4 separate regions of the Homo sapiens genome follow, and all the other regions are linked to region 4. Evidence: fine-mapped expression QTL. A gene starts in region 4. Each other region holds a variant in brackets. All regions are shown on one strand. Distances are between the middles of the regions.

Region 1 (7,550 bases), 100 kb before region 4:
GCCTGTCTTGGAGAAAGTCCCATGCACTGTTTAATAGAATGTGTATTCTGCAGTTGCTGGATAAAATATTCTGTATATATCTGTTAAGTCCATTTGTTCCAAGGTATAGTTTAAGTCCATTGTTTCTGCATTGATTTTCTGTCTTGATGACCTGTCTAGTGCTGTCAGTGGAGTATTGAAGTCCCCCACTATTATTGTGTTGCTGTCTGTCTCATTTATTAGGTCTATTAGTAATCATTTTATAAAGTTGGAAGCTCCAGTGTTAGGTGCATATATGTTTAGGACTGTGATATTTTCCTGTTGGACATGGCCTTTTACCATTACATAATGTCCCTCTTTGTCTCTCTTAACTGTTATTGCTTTAAAGTTTGTTTTGTCTGATATAAGAATAGACACCCCTGCTCGCTTTTGGTGTCCATTTGCATGAAATGCCTTTTTCCACCCCTTTACTTTATGTGAGTCTTTATGTGTTAGGTGAGTCTCCTGAAGGCAGCAGATAGTTTGGTTGGTGAGTTCTTATCCATTCTGTGGTTCTGTATCTTTTAAGTGGAGCATTTAGGCCATTTACATTCAAAGTTAGTATTGAAATGTGAGGTACTGTTGCATTCATCATGCTCTTTGTTGCCTTTGTACTTTGCTTTGTTTTTTGTATTTCGTTTTTGCTTTTTAACTTATATTTTGTTTTATAGGTCCTGTGTGATTTATGCTTTAAAGAGGTTATGATTTGATGTGTTTCCAGGATTTGTTTAAAGATTTAGAGCTTGTTTTAGCAGTTCTTGTAGCAGTGGCTTGGTAATGGAGAATTCTCTCAGCAGTTGTTTATCTAAAAATGACTGTATCTTTCCCTCAAATTTGATGTTTAGTTTTGCTGGATACAAAATTCTTGGCTGATAATCGTTTTGTTTGAGGAAGCTGAAAATAGGGCCCCAATTCCTTCTAGCTTGTAGGGTTTCTGCTGAGAAATCTGCTATTAATCTGATAGGTTTTCCTTTATAGGTTGGTGCTTCTGTCTCACAGCTCTTAGGATTCTTTTCTTCATTTTAACTTTGGATAACCTGATGACAATGTGCCTAGGCAAAGATCTTTTTGCAATGAATTTCCCAGGTGTTCTTTGTGCTTCTTTCTTTATTTATTTATTTTTGAGATGGAGTGTCACTCTGTCGCCCAGGATAGAGGGCAGTGGCATGGTCTCAGCTCACTGCAACCACCACCTCCCAGGTTCAAGCAATTCTGCCTCAGCCTCCCAAGTAGTTGGGATTACAGGTGAATGCCCCCCAAGCCCAGCTAATTTATTTATTTGTTTGTTTATTTTTTATTTATTTTATTTTTTGTATTTCTAATAGAGATGGGGTTTCACCATGTTGGCAAGGCTGATCTTGAACTCCTGACCTCATATGATCCACCTGCCTCAGCCTCCCAAAGTGCTGGGATTACAGGTGTGAGCCACCGTCCCTGGCCTCTTTGTGCTTCTTATATTTGCCTGTCTATGTCTCTAGCAAAGCTAGGGAAGTTTTCCTCGATTACTCCCCCAAATATGTTTTCTAAGCTTTTAGAATTGTCTTCTTTCTCAGGTACATTGATTATTCTTAGGTTTGGTCGTTTAACATAAACCCAGGCTTCTTGGGTTTATGTTCATATTTTCTTATTCTTTTTTCTTTGTCTTGGTTGAATTGGGTTAATTTGAAGACCTTGTCTTCCAGCTCTGAATTTCTTTCTGCTACTTGTTCAATTCTATTGCTGAGACTTTCCAGAGCATTTAGCAATTCTAAAAGTATGTCCAAGGTTTCCTGAATTTCTTATTGTTTTTTCTTTAAGCTATCTATTTCCTTGAATATTTCTCCCTTCACTTCTTGGGTTTCCTTGCATTGGGCTTCACCTTTCTCTGTTCCCTCCCTGATTAGCTTAATAACTGACCTCCTGAATTCTTTTTCAGGTAAATCAGGGGTTTCTTCTTGGTTTGGATCCATTACTGGTGAGCTAGTGTGATTTTGGGGGGATGTTGAAGAACCTTGTTTTGTCATATTACCAGGGTTGGTTTTCTGGTTCCTTCTCATTCGGGTAGGCTCTGTCAGAGGGAAGGTCTAGGGCTGAAGGCTGTTGTTCAGATTTTTTCATCCCATGGGGTGTTCCCTTGATGTAGTGCTCTCCCCCTTTTCCCGTGGATGTGGCTTCCTGTGAGCCAAACTGCAGTGATTGTTGTCTGTCTTCTGGGTCTAGCTATCCAGCAAGTCTACCTGGCTCCAGGCTGATACTGGGGGTTGTCTGCACAGAGTCCTGTAATGTGAACCATCTATGGGCCTCTCAGCTGTGGATACCAGCGCCTGTTCCAGTGGAGGTGGCAGAGGGTGCAATGGACTCCGTGAGGGTCCTTAGCTTTGGTGGTTTAATGCTCTGTTTTTGTGCTGCCTGGTCTCCTGCCAGAAGATGCTGCTTTCCAGAATGCATCAGCTGTAGTAGTGTGGAGAGGGACCAACGGTGGGCAGGGCCCTAGAACTCCCAAGATTGTATGCCCTTTGTCTTCCGCTACCAGGGTGCGTAGGGAAGGACCATCAGGTGCGGGCAGGGCTAGGCATGTCTGAGCTCAGACTCTCCTTGGGTGGGTCTTGCTGCGGCTGCTGTGGGGACGGGAGTGAGATTCCCAGGTCACTGGAGTTGTGTACTTAGGAGGATTATGGCTGCCTCTGCTGAGTCATGCAGGTTGTCTGGGAAGTGGGGGAAAGCCAGCAGTCACAGGCGTCACCCAGCTCCCACAGAATCTGAAAGACTAGTCTCATTCACACTGTGCCCTCTGCAAGAGCCCTGAGTCTTTTTCCAGTCAGAGGGCGATACGGCTTGAAAACCTGCCCGGGGCTTTCCGCCTCCCAGCTGTGAAAGAAAAGGGCTTTAGTTATTCCCCACCATGAAGTCTGCAAGCCATATTCCCGCCCTCCTCCGTGTTCTCACCAGGAGGCTTCTCACCCCATTCAAACTGTTACAAAGTTCAGCTAGAGAATTCCTTCTCCCTGTGGAGTTTTACCCCCTGCTCCTCCAGCCACTCTCCTGATGGATCCCTGTGGTGCCAGGCAGGAATGGGCTGCTTGGGGAGCCAGCAAGCTCCCAGGGCCTTCCTGCTGCTTTCTCTACCCCTGTATTTCACTCAGCTGGGCTCTCTAACTTGACTCAGCTCCAGATAAAGTCAGAAACTTCTCCCACAAACAGTCCTTCAGCTTCTCCAGTGGGGGTGTGTGTTCAGGAGAGGAGGGTCTCCCTTTCCCACTTCCACACTCGGGGCACTCACGGTATTTGGGGTGTCTCCTGGGTCCTGCAGGAGAAGTCCACTTGCTTCAGAGGGTCTGTGGGTCCTCTCAGGACTGCTTGTTTGTTCTTGCAGTCAATCTGGAGCTAAAATTCATAATGCAGGCCTCCACATGCCGCTCTGCTGGAACTGCAATCTAGTCCTCCTCCCATGCACCGTAATCTGTGATGAACATCTGAAAAAATATTATGTGGAATGGAAATATATTTTGTTTCTCTTGGGTAAATTCCTAGGACTAGATTGATAACTTTATGCTTAACATGTTTTACTTTTTCTTAACAGCTTTATTGAGACATAATTCATATTCCATAAAATTCACCCATTTAAAATATACAATTCAATAGTTTTTAGTATACTCACTGGATGGATGTACAACCATCACCTCGACCTAATTTTAGAATATTTTTGTCACTCCA[A/G]AAATGAAACCCCGTACCCATCAGTAGTCAAACCCTATTTTCCCCCAACCCTCTCTCTCAGCACTAGGCCACCACTAATCTACTTTGTCTCTACAGACTTGCTTATTCTGGACATTTCATATGAATAGAATCATGCAATATCTGGTCTTTTGTGACTGGCTTCTTTAACTGAAGATAATGTTTTTGAGGGTCATCCACATTATAGCAGATATCAGCAATTCATTCCTTGTTACTGCAGTGTAGTATTCCATTATATGAATGTGTCACATTTTGTTTATCCATTCATCAGCTGATGGACATTTGGATTATCTCTATAAACAGAGGCAATATGAATAATGCTCCTATGAACATTTGTGTACAGGTTTTTGTATGGACATATGTTTTCATTCTCTTGGGTTTACATCTAGCCGTAGAATTCCCAGGTCATATGGTAACCCTATGTTTAACATTTTGAGGTACCGTCAAAATGTTCTTTAAATGTCTGAATCATTTTACTTTCCCATCATCAATGTGTGAGGGTTTTGATCTCTCCACATTCTTGCCAGCATTATTACCTGTCATTTTGATTTTAGCCATCCTAGTGAGTGTGAAGTGGTATCTCACTGTGGTTTTGATTTGTCTCTCTCTAATGATTAATGATGCTGAGTATCTTTTCCTGTGATTATTAGCCATTTGTACCTCTTCTTTGGATAAATATATACTTAAATCCTTTTCCATTTTATAACTGGATTATTTGTCTTTTATTGTAGAGTTGTTAGAATTTTTATGTATCCCTTGTACAAGTGTCTTATCAGATATATGATTACAGATATTTTCTCCCATTCTGTGGGTTGCCTTTTCACTTTCTTAACTGTGTCATTTTAAGCACAGAAATTTTGAATTTTTATGAAGCCCAATTTATCTCTTTTTATTTTGTTTCTTGTACTTTTGGTGTCAAATCTAAGAAACCGTTGCCCAGCCTGTGACCATAAAGATTTAATCCTCTGTTTCTTCGAAGGGTTTAATAGTTGTAGCTCTTGTGTTTATGTCTATGATTCATTTTTAGTTAATTATTATAAATAGTGTGAGGTAGAGGACCCAACTTCATTCTTTTGCATGTAGATATCCAGTTGTCCCCACCCCATTTATTAAAAAGAATATTCTTTTTCCACTGAATTGTCTTGTCATCCTTGTCAAAAATCAAATTATTATAAATGTAAGAGTTTACTTCTGGACTGTCAATTAACCAATGTGTCTATCCTTATGCCAGTACCACACTGTCTTGATTATTGTAGCTTTATAGTATGCTTTAACATACTACAAAGTTTGAGTTCTCCAACTTTGTTCTTTTTCAAGATTGTTTTAGCTATTGTGGGATCCTCAAATTTCCATATGAATTTTAGAATATAAAAAAAGCCTACTGGCATTTTAATAGGGGTTTATTGATCAGTTTGGGGAGTACTGCCCTTTTGACAATATTAAGTCTTCCATCCATAAACATCTATTTCTATTTATTTAGATCCTAAATTTCTTACAACAAAGTTTTGTCATTTTCAGTGTGCAAGTCTTGCACTTCATTTGTTATTATTCTTAGGTATTTATCTTTTTAGTGCTAGGGTAAGTGGAATTTTTTTCTTAATTTCATTTTGGGTTTTTCATTGCTAGTGTATAGAGAAGTATAGTGGATTTTTGAATAATAATCTTGTATCCCACAACTTTGCTGAACTCATTTCTTGTAATAGTTTTTAGTGAATTCCTTAGAATTTTTTATGTACAAGATCAGGTCGTCTGCAAATAGTTTTCCATCTCCCTTTCCAATCTGAATGCCTTTCATTTATTTTTCTTGCCTAATTGTCCTGGCTATACATTATTCAATAGAACTGAAGGAACAAACATCTTTTTCTTGCTCCTGGCTCCTGATTTTAGGAGAAAAGTATAGTCTTTCACCATTAAGGATAGTGTTAGTTGAGAATTTTTTCATAGATGCTTTTTATCAGGTTTATAAAGTTCACTTTTTATTCCTACTTTTTGGAGTGTTTTAATAATCAAAAAGCACTGGATTTTGTCCAATGCTTCTTCTGCATTTATTGAGGTGAACCATGTGGTTGTGGCTTTTACTCTATCAATATTGTGTACTACATTAGTTTTTGATTTTCAAATGTTAAACCAACTCCAGGGATAATCCCACTTGGTAATAAAGTATGATCCTTTTTATATGTGCTGAATTCAGTTTGCTATTATTTGTTGAGAATTTTTACATCTATAAGAGATATTGGGCAATAGTTTATTTTCTTTTGATGTCCTTGTCTGGTTTTGGTAGCAGGGTTTTGTAGCATTCAATTCCTCTTGATTTTTTAAACCTCATAGAATGAGTTGGAATACTTTCTTTTTTCTTCTGTTTTTTGGAAGAGTCTGTAAAAGTATGAATAGTAGTTCCCCTTTAAATATTTGATACACATTTAACTTTTTAAGAAATGTCAAACTTTTTTCTGTAATATTTTACATTTTTATCAGCAAGATATGAAGGCTCAAGTTTCTCCAGATCCTCACAACATTTGTATTATCTCTTTTTATAATAGACATTCTAGTTGGTGTGTAAAGAGGTATATCATCTGCCTTAACTTGCATTTTTCTGATAGCTTATAATATTGATAATCTGTTTATATTACATTAGATAGCTAATAAACTATATATTAGATATCACACCAACATATATATAACATATATATGTTTTATATATATCTAAATCTTTATATATAGATTTTGATATATATGATATATATTATATTAGATAGCTAATAAACTATATATTAGATATATATTAGATATATAGATATTAGATATTATACCAACATATATATAATTTATATATATTTTATATATCTCTAAATCTTTTTATACATATAACATGTATAAAGATTTTTATATATCATTATATATAAAGATTTTGATATATATGATATATATACACACACAAAACTTATATATATGTTATATATATAAAAGTTGATATAATATCCAAATATTTATTTTTTTAAAAAATTAAGTTGTCTTCTTTTTATTGAGTATTGTGTTCTTTACATATCCTGAATGCAAGTCCCTTATCAAATTATGATTTGCAAGTACTTTCTCCCAATCTCTTGCTTGTCTTTCAATTTCCTAATGTTTTCTTTTGAAGGCAAAAAGGTTTTAATTTTAATGAATTCAAATATTTTTTCAAGTATGAAATATGTTTTTGGCATCATATCTAAGAAGTCTGCTCAATCTAAGGTCATGAAGAATATTTTGTTTTCTTCTAAAAGTTTTATCATTTTATAATAGCCTAAATGTAATTTAGGCGTATGATCTATTTGAGTTGTTTTTGTGGATATGCTGTAGGTAAAGATCTGTATATGCTTTTTCTTATAAACATATAATTATACCAGCACCATTTGTAGAAAAGACTGGTTTTTGCCCCCACTGAATTGCCTTGGCACCTTTGTTAAAAATTAAATTGACCTTAAGAGTTTATTCTTTTGTGCATTCTCAGTTTTACTTCATTGGGCTTATCCTTTCACCAGCACCACATCGTCTGATAATTATATCTTGGTAGTAAATTTGAGATCAAGTAGTATAAATCTTTTTTCCCAAAACTTTTCTGGCTATTCTAATTTCTTTGCATTTCCATGGAAATTTTAGGATAATTTTGCTAATTTCTACCAAAAAACGCCTGCTGGAATTTTGATAGGCATTGTTTTGAAGCTATAGCTCAACTCACCTAGACTGTCTAATTTGTTGATTTAAAGTTATTTGCAGCATTTCCACAGAAACTTTTTAATATCTATAGTGTTGGTGGTCACGTCCTGTCTTTCAGTCCTAAT
Region 2 (7,550 bases), 36 kb before region 4:
GAAGGCACCTGTCTCCTTCTCGCCTGGAAAGCCAGAAGCACCTGGACGGGAGGCTCGCCGTCTCCCATGCAGGTGCCCGATGCCTGTGTGTGCCCAGGCACAGGGCAGAGGGTCCGTGGCGAGCGGCAGCACCTTGTCAGGCTACTGTGAGAGGGAGCGAGCTTCGGGTGGCCCTGAGTCTCTGTGAGGGACTCAGAGGCTCCCTGAATGCCCAAGTTCCTTTAGCTTCCACCTGGAAGGACACTCAAGGAGAGGCTGACTGCGGGGGCAGGGGGAGGGACACAGTGCTGGTCCCTGGGGGTTTCACTTCCTGCCAGCTCAATGCCTGTCTGCCCAGGGGAAGCCTGCCCCCTCCCCTCGGGGAGGTCCTCCTAAGACCCTTTCCCTACAGCATGACCCAGGGAGGACGACAAGGCTACAACAGGGACCTTGAAAGCAATGTGGACCCAAGGGCTAGGTCACATTTCAGTCCTGTGACTACCAAGGTCAGGCTGCAGAAGGCAAGGAGCACAGGGGAGTGATGACATTTCGCTACAAAGCCCCATAGGACTGCAGGGACCTGACCCTGCAGAGGACCCCACTGTCAAGGAAGAAGTGGGGCTCATCCCAACCTTGTACTCCTCGAGAGAGCCTAATACCACGAAGATCTCAAGAAGCTGGTGAGGGGCCAGCCACCCCAGGAGAAGGGATGCTATGCCTGGGGCTGCTGGGAGAATAGGGTGCGGGGGGGCTCTTCCTGGATACCAGAGGGGCCCCAGAGAGGTCCCCAAGGGTGCAGAGATGCAAAGCAGATCTCGGGTGTTCTGGGCCCCTTCGGGGTGCATGCAGGGCCCCAGGGCTTCTGTGGGAGGCCCTGGGTGTACTGGCAGCAGGCTGGCGAGGCTGGCGAGGAGTGAGGAGAGCCGCAGGGGGCTCTAGAGGGGCCGGACATGGGGACGGGGGGTGGGGGGCAGAAGCTGCAGCTAGGCGGTGCCGAGCGTGGCTCGATGTGGGGAACCCAGAAGCCGTGGGGATCGAGGAGCGGCAGCGGCCACCCCACGGGGCGGTGAGGGGACATGGTTTGGATCCCCTGTCCAGGAAGCAATGGCCCGGCCGAAGCCCCGTCCGCCTGCCCGCCCCCGCCCGCCCAGCCGAGGAGCTCCCTTACCTATTGAGCTGAGGAGAGGCTTGTCTCGACAACACTGCCCAGATAGCTGAGATCAATCAGAAACAAAGCAGTTACCAACACCGGCCGGGGGGCACCGCCCACGCACACCCAGAGGGAAGCAGGGAGGGGCACAGCGAGCACCGGACAGGCGAGGCCGGAGCGTGGGGGAGGGAGGAGGAGAGAGACGGAGACCCAGACACGATGGAAGGAAGCAGATGAGCTGAGCGCGCACAAAGCACAGAGACAGGGCGGCCGCGGCACCTCCGCGCACAGGCGGCGGCTGCGGCTCCTCCACCTCCCTGCGCCCTAAGCCCCGCACCCCCTTCCTCGGCCGGCCCCGGAGCAGCCCGCGGTGGGGCTGCGGGTGGGAGGTGACCTTGGACTTCCAGGTACCAGGGAGGGTGGGGGACGGGGCAGGGGGAGGGCGCTGGGCTCCCTCCTCCTCGACCACCTCCCATCCTGCCTTCCACCAGGCCAGCCTCCTCTGGAACTCTCTGCTCCCTCCACAGGCGGCTACATCGAGAAGAGAGACCAAAGGACGGAGCCAGAGAGAGAGAGAGAGAGAAGAGGGCGGGGGACGGGGTATCCGGGGGCACTACAGAGGCGTGGCCGGCTCTTCCGAACCCAAAGGCGATGGTGAGGAAGGAAGATAGGAGAGAGAAAGACTGACTGGAGAAGGAAGGAGGGGCAGGGGGAGGAGGAGCGGGGACGGCAGGGAAGAAGGATGAGAGAAGAAGAGGCACAGGCAGGCGTCCAGGCCCTGGTACCTGGAATACCAGCTGCTACAGTTTAGAGAGTGCTCTCTCAGGCGGGCTGGTCGCGGGAGCTGGTCTGTCTCTCTGCAGCTTCCTGCGAGGTATACGGGGGGGGGGTGGGGGACGTGTCCTGCACATGGTCACAAGGCCTGACCCTTTTCTCTGGGCCTCCAGGAGAGGCTGAGGAGGGGGCTGGAGTCCGGCGCTCACTAGGGCTGCTAAGGGCCAGGAGTTCGGGAACAGGAGGCCCCTGGCCTGGTGGTCTGGAGAAGTCAGGCTCCGGGGTCCTGCTTAGCAAGCAGCAGGGGCCGGGGAAGAAAAGGAGGCTAGACACGAGGTGTGTGGGCAACCCCCAGGACCCCTGCCCGATGCCAGGACCGCAGGGACTCGGAGAGCCGTCAACTCCAAGAGGGACGGGGTCCACCCCCGCAAGGGCACGCGCTGTGATCCGCCGCTCCCTGGTAGGTGGTGCGCCCGCCGAGAGCTCAGGGCTTGCCGGAGAAGACGCCTCATGCTCCCGGCAGGGCACCTGGGCAGGTGGGCCCGCTGCGCCCCAGCGACTGCACCCCGCCCAAACCGCGGCGGCCAGAACTCCTCTCCGAGGGACGCCGGTGCGGCATGTCCGCACGAGCCCTGTCGCCGGGCGGATGGACGGGGTGGAGGGCAGGGCGAGGCGGGTGGGGGAAGGAAGTTGCCCAGGTGCGGGTGGCGGAAGAGGCGGCGCACTCACCCTGAAGTAGGTAACGTGGGTGGTGGGGTCTCCGGTCGGAGCAATTCCTCCCCCGTCCTTCGAGGGGAAGGCGTCTGTCCAAACACGTCCAAGCTGTCCCCAGGCCCAGCAGGGGCGGGGCCGGGTGGAGGGGAAGGGTAGCCGGTGGCCAGAGTGGTGAAGCCCATGGCGGGCCGGTAGCTGGGACTCCCACTGCGGCTGCTCTGGGAGGGGGAGCCTGTGGACGGCGTAGACTTTCGAGAAAAGCTGACTGCAGCCGGCGGCTGCAGGGTGATCTCTGACATCTCTGCCTGCTGCAGGAGGCCCGGGCGAGGCCGGGCACGGGCGGCGAGCTCAGGGGAGCCGGTGCGGGAGCTGAGGGGGCTTTGGGTCAGAGGTGAGAGCCGGGAGGGCTGTAGCACCACTTGATGTAAACTGGGCTCGGCGCGCCTGGCCTGCCGAGGGCTAGGCCGGGGCCGGGGCTGGGGCTCATACCACCGGGTGTCCAGGCCAAATGTGCTGGGGCCGCCGTGCGCCCCCGGCTCAGCCGGCTCGGGGTAAGGCAGCACAGGTATGCCCATGCCTTGGCTTGTATGTCGCAGCTGCCCTTGGCTTACCAGAGGTTGCATAGGTCTGTCCTGCCACTTGGCGGCGGGGGGCGCTGGGACAGGGCCCCTGCCGGGCGACTTGCCTGCCCAACCCTTCGGTGCCTCCAGAGACAGGATGCCCGGGTAGGCCGCGGGCACCTGCAGGGAGGTGGGGGGCAGTCCTCGGGGGAGGCCGGCCTTGGGCTGCAGACTCTCGGGCACATCACAGGGTGGCAGCTGGTGGGGGAACATCATCGCTGGGGTCTCCAGCCCCCCGAAGGGGAATTCTGGCCGGCCCCAGGGCTCAGGGGAGCGCCCTCCTGTAGGTGTCTGAGTCAAGGGCAGCGTGCTGTTGGATGCATTCTCTCCATTCTCCTCGGGGATGGTGGGGTGGCCAAAGGGCCCCTCGGTGGGCAGGGGCGGGGACGACATGACGGAGCTCAGGGGGCTGCCCACTTCTGGCACGTAGAACGGGGGCGGCTCCACCTCCCCAGGGCTGCTGCTGCTGAGGTACCCATAATACTGGCCATGGTGGAAGGGCCGGGGGGCAGGGGGCCGGGCCTGGCCTGTGGCCTGAAGCCGACCTTCCAGGCCACCGGGGCCCTCCAGCCCGCGGGGCTGGAACCGAGGGCTGTATGCTGGTGGTGGCAGGTAGGACTCCTGGCTGGATGACAGAGGGGTGAGCTGGGACTTCAGGGCGGCCACAGATGTGGGCACCAGTGGGTCCTCGTTCTCCTCGTCCGACTGGCGGAACTCGGGGTACATGTCCGTCTCCTCGGCGAAGGGGAAGCCCTCGATGCGCCTGCTCTTCAGCGAGGGCTCCATCTCGGCAGGGTCCATCACGAAGCGGCCGTCAGGGCCTCTGCTGATGAGCTCGATGGGCGTGGTGGCCTCTGCCTCGGCCTCTGCCTTGGCCACGCTGTACTTCTTGCTGCTGATGGCCCGCTTGGTCTTCTTGTACAGCGACAGCTCCTTCTCACGGGTGGGGCTCAGCATCCTCTTGGCCGCGGGCTGGCCCTGGTCGTCGGAGGATTCTGACGGCGCTCGGAGCGTGCGGATGCTCTCGGGGCTCACCTTGCCAGAGGACAAGCTGCAAGGAGGAGCAAGAGCCGGGAGGGGATGAGGTGGGGCAGTGTGCTGGCCAGGACTTC[C/T]TTTCCCTCTCTCGGCAACCACCCAGCACCCAGGATCCTCACGCTCAAGAAAACTGGCTGTGTATCGTGGTGTGAAATGCTTTGGCCAACTCTCCACCGTCTGGACGTGAATCCTCCTTTTTTTTTTAAAGACGGGGTCTTGCTATGTTGCCCAGACTGGTCTTGAACTCCTGGCCTCAAGCAATCCTCCTGCCTCAGCCTCCCAAAGTGCCAGGATTACAGGTGTGAGCCGCCGCGCCCGGCCCCCCCCATCATCCGTCTTTCCAGTGAACACCCGCCTCTTCACTTTTGTGCTGGCCTGCCCCCTCTCTGCTGTGCTCTAAGCACACCTCCAGCTTCATTCCCCTCTTTTCAAGACAAGCAAGCTCACTTTAATATCAACTTAAGCAACACATATTAAGGAGGCAAATCTGCTAGGGTGGGAAAACACTAAAGAAATACATTCCAAGGCTGAAGAGAAACTGATTACTGGCTAATTTGGATCATCTGCACTGCCACTCCCTCTACCAGCGTGGACAACTTACAATTAACACACAGGTCAATCAAGAAGAAATGGCTTAGAAACACTGAGATGGGGCTGGGCAAGTACAATTAACACACAGGTCAATCAAGAAGAAATGGCTTAGAAACACTAACATGGGGCTGGGTAAGGCGAGCGGTCTACCTATGCGCCCCCTGCCATGAACAGCACAATTCTCCCAGGATCTGAGACACTTACGGAGACTCCAGGCTCTTCCTGCAGTGGGTGATGGAGAGTGGAGGGTCTGGAAGGAAAGAGAAGGGGAGAGGCTGCTGAGGCCAAGCCAGCAACCACGCAGCACGCGCATCTGCAGAGGCTGACAGAGCCGGAGCACCACCGCACAGGGAAGGAGCTGCTCACAGTGGGCATCTTTGGCCCCTGCCTTCATGCTAGCTTGGGCCCCAGCAGCCTCTCCCCACCACCCCTGCTTCTTACCCCCACTTTCAAATCAAGTCTCACTGGCAGCTCTACCCACAAGATCTCAATGTCCCTATTTCCAAGGGGGGCCATGCTAAAAATGGTCCACCTCTCTTGATGGGGGGCATTTGAAACCGGGCCAGGGAGAGCAAGGGAAGGGGACAGACACCCACCTTTTTTGCGCTTGAGCTTACGCTTGCGCTGCTTGTTGACAAAGCAGGCAGCCAGGGTGCTGAACAGGATGGCAGCTGCCAAGAAGCAGATGGTAGCTACGATTCCCGCCAGCACAGGCCGCGCCAGCCCATCCTCGGTCAGGTCCGGCTGCGGGAAGATGTCTGCAGGGAGGGTGGGGAGCACTCATGAGCCCATCCTTCCCCGGGACCTCACCTGCTCCGACCTTCAGTCCCCAAGTGTTTCACCCTGCCTTTGTAGAACAGACAGTGTCAAGGCTCGGGCTCCAAGCTGAACTCTAGCACTGAAGAGGTTTGGATGGCGTCACGAAGAGGAAGAAGAGAGGAGAGTCTACAGAAGTCAATCTCTCCAAAGGGTGTAAAGAAGAAAACATCTATGCCTGTCCCCATGGGGATAATGACTTCAAGAGTAATCTATACTTATCTAGGGTTTTGCCTTCTGCAAAGCACCTTCATGCACGTTATCAGCTCTTCTCATGTTAACCCCATGAGCTACACAGAGCACACATACTGTTCTCATTCTCTAAATGAAAGAGCTCTGATCCACTGGGTTAGAGAGACCCGCTTACGTGGATATTGCCATCAGTGCCCAAACCAGAACGCAGCTGCCTGCTCCCAGTCTGGGATTTCCTGCCTCACACCAGTGTCTCTACAAAAGGAGAGCCCAGGTGTGAAGGCAACTTGAGGATAAAATACGACTGCAGGAAGAGGGATTATTACTACAAAATTCAGATCCTCTCCCCTTCTAGTACAGGCATGCAACGTCCTGAAGATTCGCATCCTGGTCATCTCAGGTACGGAAGTACCCTAGAGCTGGCAGGGACAGCAGAGATGGAGCCAAATCTCTCGTTTCACCATAAGGAGCTGAACGTCCTCCTTTCCTGCCCAAGTCTACAGAGCTCGTTATGACCGAGCCAAGACTAGACACCAGCCTACCATCTTATACTCATAGGAAAGTTGTGTCGGTAAGTGCCACTGCTTAGGTTCAGCAAAGGCAGAATCGATAGATTGTAACGTATTTGGCCAGAATTCATTGCTGCATCGATAATAATAATGGATAAAAATAATCCAGATGATGCTGATTGTCTGAGGGGAAAATGAAAGCTACAGCCTTTGGAAATGGGGGACCTAATACAGGGAATGCTGAGGCTGCTGCCTCCTCCTTCCCCTGTGTGGAAGTGTCTGACGAGGCACATTTCCTGCCAGGAGCTGGCATAGAGCTACTGAGCACAGAATGGTCAGGGGTGGGCCCACACAACACCCCTTCTTCAGCTCCAGCCTTGGATGCAAGCTCTCATCCCTGTTCCTCCAACTCTGAGTCTATTCCCCACAGAGAAGTCAAGAAAGACTGTGGGTTCTGCTACCTGTAGGACACAACCTTTTTTTTTTAAAGCCCATTGATGCCTAATGTATAAAGCAGAAATTGCACTCCACACCTGCCCCTGCTCTCGTGCTCCCTGCAGTGTGCCCACACCAGCACTTCCCCAACTCTACAAGTCCTGCTGCATGAGCTCCTCAGACGAGGTCACTGTCACCTGGTCCCAGGGGACTCTGGGTGAGCGGTGCCCAAGGAAATGATGCCATCACTTGCTTATAAGCAAGAGCCTTTTCCCATACCAAGGACACCCCTTCACTGGCGGAGGAACCTGCTATGTCTCAGGAACTATAGCTGGAGAGAAGATGTGTAGAAATGGGACCAGGGCCAAGAGAAAGAAAGATAAATGGAGAAAATGCTAGGGAATTGGCTTTATTTAGCCTTAAAAATCTAGAGAGAGGAAGGAAGGGAGGAAAACACCAAACAACAATTTTCCAAATAAAACCCACATAATTATAAAGAAGTCTATCACAAGCATTTGATAAACATGGTTGACCTGTTGTTTCCTCCGATTCACAGCCCCTCCCCGACAAGAGGAAACTGAAAATGTACAGCAAATAGCACTTCAATCAAGTCCTTTTTGACTACTATAATGAGAAGATTAGTTGAATTTCTTTCTGTGGCTGTCTTATACAAGTGTCAGAAACTCAGCTTCTGAGCTTCACGAAATAGCATGCATCATGGAAATATGGGTCTGG
Region 3 (7,550 bases), 88 kb after region 4:
CCTTAGTAGGACAGAAAGACCATTGTCTTCTGCCAACCATTACAAAGTGGAGTGGGGCTGGGGTTAGGAAACACAGACAAATCAGAAGAGGCTGAGAAGGCGGAGATGAAAGTGCATAGGTGTTTGCAGGGAGCTGGGGAATAGTTCGTGCCTTCCAAGCTCAACAAGAGAGCATTCAGCAGAGACCAGAGAATCACCACTTTTGGAGGGTGATTTTACCTTGTGAGAACAGAGCACAGGGTGTGTGGGACCCAGGGCATCTTCGGCAATGCGGGCGTGACTTGGCGGGATGTCGGTGTTTGTGTTTGCATGTGTGTGTGCGTGCGTGCATGCTCAGTCTGGAAAACTGGTGACTCACTAAAACACCGAGCTTTCTGATCTGAAGAGCTTATATTCGGCTATTTTTAGCTCGTCTTGTCTCTTGGCCCTTTTTTTCCCCTTGTCTGTTTTCAAATGTAGAGGAGTCTGGAGACCATGAATGCCGTGTGTGTGTGTCTGCTAATTTAGAGCTTGGGCCCAGAGGTGGGTACCCCTGAAGGTGCAGAGATGAAGGCACGTGGGGTGTATGTGTGTACAGCAGGGACACACTGACACAGACAGGGTGCACATGCTCTTATTCTGGCATGTACACACGCGTACCATGCATACGTGCAAGCAGGAGTGAGGCCAGAAACGTCCCTGGAAACTCCGGCCTACACTCTCTTCACGTGGGTTGGTGTACAGCTACCCACTATGCATACTTCACAAGTATAACTGCCTCCCCACCCCAGCCCCTGCCTCACACGACCCAGGTGGGCACACTCTCATGAGGCACATGGCCACAGGCACAGTCTGGGCCTATCTTGGGGAATGGCCCCAGCCCCTGTGCCTTGTTTCTTCTCTGTTCAGCCACTCTTCCAAAAATTATGACTTCTTCTCAAGAAGGCCTTTCTCTGCTGGTTGGCAATAGGAAACACGAAGTGCCAGCTTCTGCACTTGGCTTCTCCTGGGACTCATTCAGCTGATCCCACCTGCCCACCACCATTGGCCGAGACCGCCTCCCCAGTCCAGTGGTCATCCAGCTACAGGGGGTCTGGCAACTGCTTAGAGAGGCCAGGCAGGGGTCAATGCTGTGTGAGCTCCGTTCCTCTAGCCGGGAGAGAGGGAGAAAGGAGAGCGAGCTCGGATTGCCATCTGCCTAGGTGCAGTGTGGGGCAGGCGGGGAGCGGAGCTCGGACTGCCGTCTGCCTAGGTGCAACGTGGGGCAGGCAGGGAGCGGACAGCACTCTTCAAGGCTCTAGAACGCTGGTGGGTTCCTGGACCTTGACTCTGTGTGACAGGACTGTGTATGCAACCCAGTGTCAAGAGCAGAAATGCGCAAATGCTGCCTATGACCAGTGCCTCAGTGATGCGGCACGCCTGGGAAAGGGCACCCACAGCCTCTCTTTCCACACAGCACACATGCTGTGCACTCACGCACAGCAGCACGTGCCTGCATGCACACACTCTTAGAAGCCTGCGTGAGAGAGAACACGAGCCTTCGTTACTCCAGACACCAAAGCAAGCTCTGAGCTGCATCATCCCTCAAGTCTGCAGTTTAGGCATGGCTCAGAGGCCCCAGCCAAGGCGGCCAAAACCCAGCCATGTGTTGCTCCTTAAGCCATGTCTTCTGCTGAGAGTCTGCGTCAGCCCAGAGGAGGGGCCCTCGGTCTCCCTTGCCTGCCGGGAGGCCCTGTGGTTCCTGGTGTCCAGTGGGCTCAGCGTCACGTCCTGGAAGGAGCCACTACCCGCCTACTGCCCCACTGCATTCCACTCCACACACATTTGGGGATCCAGCGCTCTGTGCAAGGCACTCCATGTCATCATGATGAAGGAGGACCAGCCGGAGTCCCCACCCCCAGACCCCTGCCCCAAGATAGGCTGGCACAGAATAAGATGCCTGCACAATTAGCCATTGCAGGACTCGTCACCCAGGGTGTGTGTGGTCATGAGCCACGCAGAAGGGATAATTCTCTCTTCCTCCTGGGGCCTGGGGGCCTTCACAGAGAACAGGACAGGGGCTTTTGCCTGGGCCCTGAATAATGAACAGATCTCCCCAGGCCAAAGAGGAACTTCTCAGGCAGGGAACTGGCCTGCATGAAGGTGTGGGATTGGGAAGCGTGGACAGGGGCTCGTGGGGAGAAATCAGATCTTGCCAGCAGACAGACTGGAGCTCAAGCCTGCCTGACTTGCCTCCGGTTCTGTGGCTCTTGCCTGAAGGAGAAGTGATTTTGAATTATCTACCTCTCTTCTTACCCCACATGGAAGGAAAAAGTCTTTTTATCTTGAAAGATCTGGACTCCTTCTGCCTTCTGAGCATCTGTAAGATGGAGATACTAATAGGGCCTTCCCTATAGAGATATTTTGAAGATTAAATGAGAGACCTCATGGAAAGCTGTTAGCACAGAGCTGAGTAAGTAAGCATTGTCATTAGTTATTATTATCCTATTTTATAGGCTACCACAGTGATTCTCAACCGATTTTACCCCTCAGAGGTCATTTGGCAATGGCTGGAGACATGTTTGGTTGTCACAACTTGCAGGAGTGGGAGGGAGGCTGCTCCCCGCCCCTGGTGGGTAGGGCCAGGGTGCTGCTAAGCACCCACCATGCACAGGGCAGCCCCCACAGCAGAGCAGAGCCCCCCCAGAATGCAGAGAGCACAGAGGCTGAGAAGGCCTGGGCTGGGGGGTTTCACCTTCTCCTGAAGACAGTGCGGTGACCACGATTTTCAAGCAGGGAATGACATCATAAAATCTAAGTTTCAGAAAGAAAAATCTGGCAACATTGTGACATGTCTAGAAAGCTCAGCCAGGGGCACTGCAGACCTGCAGATGAGACCGGGGGGAAGGAGGGCTGGGTCTGCAGCAAGACCAGGAGGCCGCACATTGGCAAGAAGAGAGCAGGAGAACCTGCTGAGGGCTAGAGGAAGGAAGGGACAGGCCTGGGGCCACTGGAGGACCCTAAAGTTTCCAGCGCATGGACCTGAGCAGATGGTAGTGCCGCCTTTCAACAGCATAGGAAGAAAAGACTCCATTTGGGAACTGTGTCCTCCAGGGCCCAGGTTGGGGGAAGCTCCTCCACCAACCTGTACGTGAGCCATGCCCCTCCAGTCCATCTGCTCCCACTCAAGGGGGGACCACCCTTCAAGAGACCCTCACCCAGCCCATCAGTGCCCAAGAGAGGCAGGCATCCAACTGCACCATCTCCCTCTCCTTCCCCATGCAGCTCCCTCTGAATGATGATCAGTGAGGCCCTGCAAGACAGCCTCCCGAGGCCGAGCCACCGAGCTACAGGACGAAGATGATCTTTCTGGGCTCCTGATGTCCAGACCCTGTCTTGTCTTTCAGCATGTTCAGAATACCTGTGGCTGCTGTGGGCAGAGAGGAGGTACCGGGGAAGTCCTGGCAGACTTATCTATCGGCAGAGAGACTGAGTCTCCATGCCACCCCAATTCCCCCTGCCCTTTTGACTGAGCTCTGAACACAAGTTAGAGGAGCTGGGGGAAAGCTCCAAGCAGTCAATACATCAACCAGTGAGCACGTGACATGTCCTGTCTCGTGCTCAGCGCTGGGGAGGACATCCCCACAAATATCACAGCTCAAATTCACTGGTTGGGAAGGCAAGACTCACAGGCAGAGAAGAGTCAAAAAACTATTAAAGAGGCCCCTGGCATAGTCTGAGGAGCCCTGGATAGAGGTAAGACCAGAGTTCTATCCCCAGGCCTCAGGCCTGAAGCAGGTCCCTGTACTTCCAAAAGCTCCAGCTACACCAAGTTATAGACAACTTCTCATGGCCTGGATTGTGGATGGCAGTGGCGCATCTGATTGATGGGTACTGATGCCTGGAGCACTGTGCTGAGGAGGAATCCGAGGCAGCAGCAAGTTTAGTAGGACTGTGATGGCCAACCGGCGAGGCGAGCGGTAGGTGCCACCGGGATGTCATGGGGATGTACCTCCTGCTTATTAACCCTTCTGGTTAAGAGCAACTGACTGGAGCCATTTCTAAGGACTCCTCCAGCTCCCAAATGGGATAATTCTATGATGGAAACGTTACATTTCAAGGCACTGGCTGGAGCAGAATAAGGCAAAGCAGGAAGAGATCTGCATGGGTTGGGCTGATCAGGGAAGGCTTTGGGAAGGAGGCGGCACTTTAGTGCGGCCTCAAGGTGGGGGAGTGTGAGTAGCTGTACCGGAGGTGGGAGGACGTTTATGTGCATAAAACTGGGGCTGAGCATGGGCTGTTCTTGGTACAGGAGGGAGGCGGCTAGCATCGCTGGAATGCGTTGTCTGTGTTTGGGGCAAGTATGATTACATATGGGAGAGCACACTGCCTGAGAGCTTCCCACATTGAAGCCACAAGCAAAGATGACGTTCCATGCATGCTGGCTTCCAGTCCTCACAGCTCGTCTTCAAGGCAAATGCTCTTCCCAGCCTTCCCTAGCATTCTGTGACTTGCTCAGGGCTACCGCTGGCAGGTGCGAATCCTGC[A/G]TTCAGCCTGGGCAGTGCGGTTCTGATGGCTTCGGGCATAACTTCTCTGCTCTGGTGCCTTCTCTACTCTTAGAAGCTGACCAGTAAGGAAACCCAGCAATGCAGTTGAGACACCATGGCCGGATCTGTGGATTCTAGGGACCAGGAAGAGGCAGGAACAGCTGTAGACTGAGGAAGGAGGGCCTTGCTTGAGCCATCAGTCACACAAACAGATCCAAGCAAAGAACAGGGCAAGGTGGACACAGATCAAAGATGGGCACTAAATGCCACTGGGTTAGGGCTTGCTTTAGACCCCCCCAAGTCCTACATAATCTACTGGAAACAACAAAAAGTGTCCCAACCCTCTGGGAATAGGCAAGAAGGTGTGGGAGGTCATGAAATTCCAGGGACGTGGGGCTCAGCCTGTGAGGATGGGAATAGAGCCTGCCATGGTCTTAACACCAGCCCAGAGGCAGAAGGCAACTGTCTAAATAAAGATCTCATTTCAGACAAAGCTTAACCCTGCCTTTGCCCAGGCCCGCAGCCTCCAGCTGTCTCCACGCTGTCCCTGCCTGGCACCTGGTGGTGCGCTGGGGAACTTTCTCCCTCCTTCACAGCCCTCTCTCCTTCCTTTCTCCTTACTGGGTTCACAGACAGCTCCAGCCTCCACTCAGCTTGGCCTCTCAGTTCGACGGCACGCAGAAGATGCTGCTGTGCGCCGCCCTGCCCCAGGCTCCTGAGCAGGGGAAGGTGCTGTCGTGCGCCGCCCTGCCCCAGGCTCCTGAGCAGGGGAAGGTGCTGTCGTGCGCCGCCCTGCCCCAGGCTCCTGAGCAGGGGAAGGTGCTGTGTCTCGTCTTGCTTTCTTCACCTCTCCCACCACCCTGGTCCCCACCCATCCGGGGATGGATCCGAAACCAGCCCGGGTATGAAACTCTCCGGCCTCTCTCCCAAACATCCTCGTGCCCCTGCTCCCCTTGCTCTGGTCCCACTCCATCTCAAGCCCCCTCTGCAGTCCTCCCTTCTGGTTTCTCCCTCTGGCCTCCGGGAGGCCTCTGGTGCCCGCACAACTTCCTGGCATTGAGGAAGGACCAGAGCTGTAACGTGGGGCTGGAAGGTCCCAGAACCACCAGCTAGTCCTGCCCTGCCAGCCTCTCCTTGTTAAGCTCTCCCTCCTGCTGTTCAGTCTATGCTCGACGACTAGAGGCCTGATTTTGAAACTCTCTTTTGGGGCCACTGGGTCAGGCCAGCCCTCCTCACTGTCAGGAAATGTATCCTCATTTCTTACCTTAATTTCTCAACCGCAGCCGTTCTTTCTTGCTCTGAGAAGTCACCCGGCGTGATGCTGCGGCCATGCTACTCCTCAGCGCTCTGCTTCCCAACCAAAACAATGCTCCTTCTCATCTTTTCCAAAGCTTCCGGCCCCAGCAGTTCTCGGACCTGGGGTAGTTTCCTCCCCGCAAGTAACAAAGGAGGACAAGCCCCAGCTTCTCTAAGATGCCTTCAGCTGCCTGGAAGAGGCCTGTGGAAGGCCCTGCAACTCTCCGCAGACCTCTGGGCATTGCTGCTGCTTCTCAGTGCCCCTCGTCCCCTCAGCCAGGTGAGTCACCATCATCCTCGCTCCTCCCAGACCCGAAACCTCTCCTCTCCCATCCTTCCTTCTCTTTGTATCTCTTTCCGTTTAAACACGCGAACGAACGCGTGTCCACACACGCATATCATTTCGGGCCCTATCTGGAGCTGTCATTGACAGAACTCAAATTGTGATAGGCAAATTGGCTTCAATGTCAGAGACAGGAAACCCAGTATGCATCTCCCGGTGCCTGGAGAGCGAGGAGATAAGAGAGCAGAGATGGGCTGCCTCGGCCAGCAGCACCGGAGCAGGGACGGTAGCCAGGGAAGCAGGTCTTCTGCGGCTCCGGCTCAGGCACCAGAGTCCTGAGTGCTGGGGACCCTGGCTTGATTCTTACCCCCAGCGTGATGTGGGATAACAAAAGGAGGATGGAGCACCTCCGAGATGCACTGAGCCCTTCCCGAGGGCTTCTCTAAGACAACCCAAGTTCTTTCCTAGCGGGAATCAGACATCTACAGCAGGGACCCTTAGCCCCCAGATGCCACATCCTACATGTAGGGCCGGTCACTGCCCTGGCAGTTAGGAGGGGACGGGTGAGAGCTGCTGCCGAAAAGAGGAGCAGCCGTTCCAATGCCATCATACCTCTGCTTGTCCCCGTTACATAAAGCTCCAGCTGACTTGGCGTAATGACTAAGAAAACTTTCCAAACTTTCCGAAGACAGTTGGTGATCCTCTACCCTCCCGGTGACTGGTGAGAACTACCCCCACAGAGAGCCAGCAGAGAGGAAGGCTCCCAGCTCCGGGCCCTGACTCATCACACACACAAACACTCCCCAGCACTCTTTCCCAAAACAGTTCCCCTCCCACCCATCCACCCTCCTACCGGGGCTGGGTGACAAAAATGAACGCCCCAGAGATCTTGCCAAGTTCTGGGCCACGCTCAGCCCAGGGAACACGCAATTCCCCGTAGAATGGGAGGAGCAGGCCCCGCCCCCTCTGGAAGCAAACAATGTCCATTGGAAGGAAACGACCACCTGACTCTACAATGATCACTGTACTGTTTTCCAAATACCTTGGACCACTCTCCCCCAAGAAAGAGTTCAAAGCTCTATAATCATAAAATATTAGAGCTTAAGGCAATCTTAAAGGTCATCTGTAGCGCCTCTCCCCTTCCCTGCTTCCATGCATCTACACGTGGATTCATTTCTTTATCTATCTGTTCATCAGATAGCCACTCAGTTCCTACAGTTTGCCCATGTGCAACGCACGCACTGGAGGCCTCACAGACGCACTGTCTCCTCAAGGCGCTTGTCATCTAGTGGGTGAGAAAGCAAGTGACAAGGCGTTGGAATAAGTAGGACAGGCACTGTGGTAGGAAGAGTGCATGTTCTAGAAGCACCGAGAGGGCACGTCACCCCCACCTTGGGGTAGTGGGGGGAATTCATGGAGACTTACTGGGAGATATTATATATATCTATGTATATGTACATAATAAA
Region 4 (7,550 bases):
TCAGCAGTTGCAGCTCTTTGACCATTCAGATCCACTCTTCACACAAGCTGCTTCACCTCTTCTAGGAAGCAGGTGGAAGGGGACCGCTCCCTAAGTACTCTGCACCCCAACCTGAGAAGGCCACAGGATGTGGAGAAGAGAGCTACCTTAAATCTCAGGCCCAGCCCTCTTTGGAGCTTATCTCCCACCCCCACATCTTGAAGCACCCAGCAGGGCTGAGGAAGAGAGGGCCAAGGAAGAAGACACAGCCAGCACCCTGGCTGGGGAGAAGGCAAAGGTACAGGAGGTTGGAGTGAGGGCCAGAGTGATGCTGGGGCTCAGAATCTTCCAGCGAGGCAGCCTCTGCTCCTCTGTAACCAGATTCCAGCCTTCTGTCTCAGAGCCATAAACACGAAACCACTCAAGGTCTATCTAGGACCCTGCAACTCCAGGACCAGCACATGCAGGGCCACAGGCCCGCGGCTGAAAGCTGATTGCCCTCTGCCCCTCAGCCAAGCCCTTCTCACATCCCCGTCTCCCCAGCTTCCCACAGGGCACAGGCTGCCAGACACACTCCTGTCCCCAGCATGTGTGTGCTGAGGATACACACACACATCCATCCAGCCACTGACCACTTCCTGAGTGAAGTCCTTCTCAGCCGATAGGCTCACCACGGGGTCTTGATAGCAACCTCTGAGTCCAAACCTCCACCCTCCCATCTTCATTACCAAAAGGAAGCATAGGTCAAGGCCAGGTAGAAAGTAGAGGGCAATGGCCCAACTACCAGCAGGATCTGAGTCAGAACCTCACTGTATTTGGGGACACTGTAGTCAGGGATAATGTAACGACAGAATCTGTGGCAGACAGAGGAGGCAGCCGTGGGAGTAAAGTCTGGGACTTTCCTCCCCTATCCAAGGTCCACAATCAGCTAAGCACGGCCCAGGGTCCTCCCACAGAGTAGGAACTCCCCCGGGCTGGCTCAGCAGCCGTCTGAGATACTGAGTGCACACCAATCACTGTCTTCCAGGTTCTGGGTACCACTCCAGCCCCTCTCTTCTCCACACTTCCCCAACCTGTCCACTGACCTTAATCACCTCCCAGGCACACACACTCAAAGTCAAAAGGAGGAGCCCATTCCAACCTCTGTCCCGCACCCGAGGGCTGATGGAGTCGGGTCCCAACACAACATCATCCCTTTCCCCCTCTGCCAGAGCAGCCCCTGCTATGGCCAAATCCTAAGGGTGGCATCTCAAAGTCCCTCCTGCTGAGGGACTGCCCCAGAAGTCACCTCTGCCAGTCAGGGAACAGCTGAGCTCTCACAGGGAGACTCAGCAGCATGTGGACACTGGCTGGTGCTGCTCACACGAGCGGGCGCCCACCCGCTCTCTCCAGAGGCTGTGTGTTGCAAGCCCTCACTTCCCGGGCTGTGTCCTTCCATAAACCTCTGGCCACCAACAACACTCCAGCTTTGGAGACCTTGCAAAGGACTTCCGAGCAGCTTTGAGGCCCGCACATCCTGCACACGTGTCCCTGGGATGCCAGGGACAAGAGGTTCTGCCCAGACAAGGTCAGCCCAGAAAGGGGTCTTACTTCCTGACACAGGCAGCCTTCTGAACTTCCCCGCAACACATTCTCAGCTCCTAGTGCCCTGAATGGCCCAAGGGAAAGAAATTGAGGAGGATCTTGGAATCCCAGGGACACTGAGAAAATAATGTTAATGTTTACTGAGCACGTACTATATAACAGGTAGTTGTTTTGTTTCCTTATAACACTCATGTCCACCTAAAAACCCTAAAAGTACATGCTATTGGCACATTTTCTATTGAAGCAAGTGACATTTAGAGAGGTTGAGAATTTGTCCAAGGTCACAGGGTCGGCAGGTGACACAGCCAGAATCTGAATCCCAGTCATATGGCTCTAGACCTAGGTCCTTAACTACCACACACAGAGCAATTGAGGCTAAGAAAGACCCCAAGACCAGCAAGGTCACCCTCTGCTTCCAGACAGGGGTACATGTCCAGCCATTCCAGACAGAAGGACCCCTCTGCACCCTGAAAGAGGGCATAACCTTCATGCCAGGCAGCCTTCAATTTTGGGAAGCCCTTCCTTCTATCTTGCGATTCTGCGTGTTGCTGCAGTATAAACTCACATTCCTTTATTCTGGGCTGAAACTTGCAAAGAAGTCCATTGCCCACCCTGACTTAGGTTCGGAGGCTATTTCAGAGCCTTCCTTCAGCGTCTCTTTTCTATTCAAAGATCCCAGCTCATCCTTTTGTGCTTTCAGGGACAGTCCCATAGCAGGAACATACCAAAAACGGGAGGGGAGGAGGATGCGGGCATTGGAAGACGGCAAGGAAATGGGGGAGAGGATGAGGCTACAGGCAGACTGTCAAGCGCAGCCCGATGCACCTCACATCCACCCCCCGTTCCGTAAGCTTCCGCCATCACCCTTGCCTCAGTGTTCCCACCTGACAAATGAAGAGTTTTAAAACCGTCCGGACCAACATGTCAGTTAACAAAATCACCCTTCGCTTCGCCCTCTGCTCGTTCTGTTTTCAGACACCACCACCCCCCTCAGAAGCAGAGGCGACATATTCATTCCATTCCGGAAAGTTTCCTGAAGCACGCCCCCCTGCACAGACGAGTGACGAGGGGACCCCGTGAGAGGCGCCTCCAGCCCACCCGGCGCCCCATGCCGCTGGGAGAGGGTTCTCTGTCGGCGAGTCCTGCCTGCTGACTCCCACCCACAGCGGGTTCTCTCCCGCCGCCATCTCCTCCGGCTTGGTGAACTTGCCCGCAGCCGGGTCGTGTCTGCGCGCTGACAGCCCTGAGCTCACAGTCCTGGCACCCTCCAGGCTCCGCTCCCACTTCCATACAAGGGCCGAGAGCCGGGGGTGCCACCCAGAGGCTTGTAGGTCGCTCTGCCCATCTCCAAAGCAAAAGCCCGCGCGCTCACGCACGCATCACCCAACTCGGTGGCTCCCCCCTTGCGTCTCCCCCAGCTCAGACCCAGGAAAGCGGAAAGAGAAAATCCCCCCTCCGCTCGGATTCACAGCGTGGGGACCCCCCCTTCCCCGCCCCTCCCCTCCCCCGCCGCCGCCCCCAGCCAGCTCTGCCTCGCAGCCTGGGGAGGGCGGCGTGGGGCCCGCGCGGCTGCGGCGCGCTCCCGGGGAACTTTTGCCTGGCCGGGGCCCAGGTGCGGCTGAGAGGCGCGGGGGCCGGCGGGGTCCAGCCAAAAGCGGACACACCTCGAAGCTGGCCTCATCAATCCTCCTCTCACCGGGCGCCCCTGCTAGGGGGATCCGACCTCCAGCTGCCAAGATGTGTGGGCAGGAGGGGCGCGAGCGGAGCGATGGACGCCCGCAGGGCCGCGCGAACCCGGGGCCTTAGACGCGGGTGCCGCCAGTCCCAGGGATCCTCCGGGTCGCGCCTCCCTGCAGGCGCTCCTCGCGGCGCGGGGCTCTAGCGTGCTGCAGCCTGCCCGGAGACCGCAAACTCCCGCAGCCAGAGTTTCCCGCAGCTCTGGGAGGCGGCCGCCGGGCAGGAGGCGACGGGCTAGGCGCGCCGGTGTGCACCGTGGGGCCCGTGGTGGGCGAAGTCGACCCAGGTTCCACTGCGTCCTTTCCCCGAGTGCCCGGCAGCCCGTGGGCTCTGGCCCCTTCCCGCCCGCCCCTCCAGCCCACGGCCCCCAGGCCCTCCCCGGCAATGCTCCCGGGCCGCCTGGCCCGCGTCGGAGCCCAAGCCTCACCCGCGGGAAGGCGCGCCGGGGAGCTGGGGAACCGGGGGGCCAAGGAGCCGGGAAACCGAGGGGCCGGGCGCGAGGGGCCGAGGGCGCCGGGAGGGGCAGGGGAGGGACGCCGCACTTCAACTCACCTTCAGCCGCAAGCCCTCGGGTGCCGATCACACTTGCTATGAAAGTGGCCACATACCAAATCATAGTACTACCGCGCCAGCCCGGAGCCTCATCCTATCGCAAAGTGCTCCCGCGCCCGCACGCGCCTCGCGCCCGAGCGCCCGCCTCGCGCCCGCCTCGCGCCGCCTACGCCCCGCGCCGGTGCTCCTGCAGCCCGGGTGGCCAGCTCTCCATCCCTCCTAGGCTCCGCTCGGCTCGGCGCGCGCCTCCCCGGCCCCGGCGCAGCGGCACCTGCACTACTCGCCCGGGCGGAGCGCAGCCAGGTCCACGGTGAAGCCTAGCCGGGCCGGGCCTCCGGAACCGCCCCCGCCGCCCGCCTATTGGGCGCCGCCCGCAAGCCGGGGGTCCGATTGGCTCAGCCTTCCGCCCGTCGCGGCGCGAAGGAGGCGAGCCCATTTCAAGGTGCGTTGAAGTGTGGCGAGCACAGAGCCGCAGAATCATGCGCATTGCCGGGGAGAAGGTGGTATAGCGTCTCTGCCCGCTTCTCTCTCGGCTCACACTGCGTGGCAAGTTTCTGGTGAGGGAAATGGTAGCTTCTAACGGGACCCTGGCGGGTCTCAATTACCCCGGACAGGTCTGAGGGAAGTGGAGCCCCCGCCCACTCATGGAACCCAACATCCGGTTTCCATCCGGCAAAAAGCAGTTCCCGAGAGGACCATGCTGATTCTATGATGGGGAAACCCAGGAGCCGGCGGCCCGGGAGAGCCGGGGAACGTCCTTCGCCGGAGATCTTTTCAAAGAGGTCACGCGCCGCCTCCCCACCCCGTCTCCCTCCGCACCCAGACACGTCCCCAGAGCAGCGCACCACCCCCTCCAAACGTGATGCAGACCGGGGGATGACTAAAATGACCTCTCAAAGTCGCTAAGATTTAGAGTGAGTCATTGGCTCAGCTGCGAAGTGCCACAGACCCCTCAGGAACACTCGTGCACACACACTCCACCCCCAGTGCTGGTCACTGCTGCTCATCATTACTGAATCCCGACTCCAAGCAGTCAAAGTTGGGTCTTTTTCCCACTTCTCCTGATAAAGGCTGCTTCCTCACGCACATGGTTCCTCCCCTCTCCACCTTACTCGGAGCCCAGCCCCGACTCGGCCGCATGAAACCAAGATGGGTTTGGGGGAAGCTTTAGGAGTCTGGGATGGAGGAGACCCAGGGAAAGGGAAGGAGCTTCTCATCCTACAGAGGAATGTAAATAGGAAACTGGAAGGTCTTCGTATGTTCCAGTCTCCCTACCCTAGCCTGTCTGCTTCCCCTCCCCCAATACAGTTGTATTTGCAGAAGAAATAAATGAGTGTCATGGAAACATCTACTACAAACAATCACCTCACACCAGCGCTCAGAGGCTGCAGTGAAGATGTTTGTTCTTTCAAGGAGTGAAGGCAGTGGTAAGAATCACACCGCTCCCTGGGATGGGCTGTTGGCCAAGGAAGGAAGGCAGAGGGTCAGCGAGCGAGAGCTCAGGAATTTCATCCTCTCAAAGCACTCGTTAGCCACAAAGCCCTGGCTCCAGGACATGAAGCTCCCAAAACAACAAGAAGGAGACTTGCTTCTGGGAAAGCGTGCACACAGGTACACACACATGCACAAAAAGTGGCCTTGAACACCGGAGGTGGAGCATTCCCTGACACCGGAAGCCTCTTAGCTCACCGCCAGCTGGGAGGCAGAAAGAGGCCCCCAACAGAGCAGTCAGTGAGCACATGGATAAAGGTCGAGGGCCTGGATAGATCCAGAGAACCAGGACTGTTGAATAACCTTCTACCCTACCCACCCCTCCACCTGTGCAAACACACTCAAGATGCATAACTTGGGGCCATCTCTCCCTGAGCCATGATTTTGGTTCTCTTCTTGGGCAAAGATGCCTTTCTGGGGACAATGAAGTGAGCTGCTCCAGGTCTCATTGATGCAGTGATCTCCAGGTCTCATTGATGCAGTGATTTCCAGGTGGCATGACCCAGAATAACTCCACCCCCAACACACACACACACATATACATACACACACACTTACACACTTTCCCAGGGCCCCGGGACTGTAAAGACATATTGGAATCCATTTGCAGAATTGGTCATAACAGGATCCTTCTCCTCCCACAACCTCTAAGCAGCTAACTGTGGCCTAGAGAAAAGTGCCGGATCCACAAAGCCTGGCCCTAGTTCCTCACCATTGTTAGGTATGGAGTGGGAAACATCAGGTCTCAGAGAAACCCTCTCCTAGGGGCCTGCAGGGCAAGGAAAAAGATGGAGCCACTCTCACCACCCATCTTGATTGCTTTGTCTGGCCATCCATTTGTCCTACTCAGGGTTCTGCCTCCTGCTAGGAAAGTAGAACTGTCTGTCAGAATGGATGGCGGGCATGGAGGCTCATGCCAGTAGTCTCAGCTCCTCAGGAGGCTGAAGCAGGAGTATTGCCTGAGCACAGGAGTTCTAGGCTCAGTGATCATGCCACTGCACTCCAGCCTGGGTGACAGAATGAGACCCTGTTAAAAAACAAACAAAAACAACAACAAAAGTGTCTGTCAAATTGGAAAGAAAAAAACACGTAACAAGCTTTAGAACATGAGTTGGGTTGGGAAGGGGTTCGAAGGATCTATCTAAAGAGGAGAACAAATTTCTTCTGGATAATTCTACTGGAAACAGAGTGGAACAAGGGATGAAGGCAGAGAGGAAGGGGAAGAAAATTAAGATACAAAGGGAAAAGTTCGTCATCATCATCATCATTAGACATGTCTCAACTGGGTTTCAGATCAGCTAAAGAGAGATATACTGTATCAGCTTACAGTGAGGAGTGAGTCTGATCAAATCTTTTCCTCTTGGCGTATGGCTGAGCTTTGGACCCAGAAAGGATGGTTGCCCCTTCCTAGAATAGACACATCCAGTTGAGTGTTCAAGGGGAGCATGGACCCCAGATGTCCAAAAGGGACATGAGGGAGGAACATGAGCCACTTCCCTGCGCAGCTCCTAGGTGTACCTGAATGTCATCGATGTCACTAATAAATGCAGTAATATATCCAGGAATGCTATGTATATCAGATACGGGAGTGTCTGTCATCTTCTTTTAAGAGGTACTGACTTTTTGGAAATACAAAACAATAGTCTTATCAGTGTGTCTATGAAAAAAAACCAAATGTAGCCACCTACCTGCACATCCCAGAGGCCTTTGGAGGACATGTGAGAAAGGGGGCTGACAGGAGCTTCAAGTGTAGGAGAAGAGGAAACTATCCTCCTTCCCTCCTCATAGTCATCGAACAAGGAGGACTCAAAAACAATAGTTCACTTGTCTGTCACTTCTCACCTTCCTCAGTGGTTCCAGCCCTCATTGCAGAATCTAGGGTAGAACAATTGTTGGGACAGCTGCTTGTGAAAAGGAGAGGCAGTTCTAAATAAAAGCAGTTTACTCAACACAAACACCAAAGAGCGTGTTTAGTGTTTACATAAATAGGGAACTGTATCAGTTGTCTTACCGTGTAAAAACCCAGCCCAAAATATCATGGCTTAAAGCAAGAAGGCTCATTCATTTGCTCTTGAATCCGCAATTTGGACACTGGCTGGTGAGGACAGCTCTTCTCTACTTCATGTGGCATCAGCTCCACTGGGGTGTGGACCTTTCTCCTTTCAGGATGGCTTACTCACGTGGCTAGCAGGTTGACGCTGGCTGTT

Which allele goes with the higher level. Positions count from the first base shown, and alleles are read on the strand shown. Sizes are in standard deviations (SD) of each study's normalised expression. Not every link is listed here.
In carriers of allele A in region 3, the expression in unexposed skin of the gene that starts at base 4,130 in region 4 tends to be higher than with G alone (small effect, 0.29 SD a copy in GTEx).

The links. PIP is the estimated chance that this variant, and not a neighbour inherited with it, causes the effect. A credible set is the group of variants that fine-mapping cannot tell apart.
Region 1: its variant is the best candidate, but not a certain one, in a credible set for the expression of IGSF9B in whole blood (INTERVAL, PIP 0.69).
Region 2: its variant is the best candidate, but not a certain one, in a credible set for the expression of IGSF9B in whole blood (INTERVAL, PIP 0.83).
Region 3: its variant is the best candidate, but not a certain one, in a credible set for the expression of IGSF9B in unexposed skin (GTEx, PIP 0.72).

The regions. Positions count from the first base shown.
Region 1 is chr11:133,851,875-133,859,424 of GRCh38, forward strand. No RefSeq gene overlaps it. Among named protein-coding and RNA genes, the nearest start is that of SPATA19, 10 kb to the left of the region's middle. RefSeq lists enhancers at 1,908-2,793, 2,426-3,625. The variant A/G (reference allele first, on the strand shown) is at 3,712.
Region 2 is chr11:133,917,110-133,924,659 of GRCh38, forward strand. IGSF9B (immunoglobulin superfamily member 9B) reads right to left here. Exons shown (of 20, transcript NM_001277285.4): 16 at 5,460-5,621; 17 at 5,068-5,113; 18 at 2,633-4,288. Among named protein-coding and RNA genes, the nearest start is that of MIR4697, 22 kb to the left of the region's middle. The variant C/T (reference allele first, on the strand shown) is at 4,350.
Region 3 is chr11:134,040,865-134,048,414 of GRCh38, forward strand. It overlaps LINC02731 (long intergenic non-protein coding RNA 2731), which reads left to right. Exons shown (of 3, transcript NR_027276.1): 3 at 1-477. Among named protein-coding and RNA genes, the nearest start is that of LINC02731, 12 kb to the left of the region's middle. RefSeq lists enhancers at 4,751-5,251, 5,252-5,752, 5,601-6,800. The variant A/G (reference allele first, on the strand shown) is at 4,506.
Region 4 is chr11:133,952,839-133,960,388 of GRCh38, forward strand. It overlaps IGSF9B (immunoglobulin superfamily member 9B), which reads right to left and starts at 4,130. Exons shown (of 20, transcript NM_001277285.4): 1 at 3,853-4,130. The coding sequence starts at 3,916. RefSeq lists a silencer at 3,959-4,308.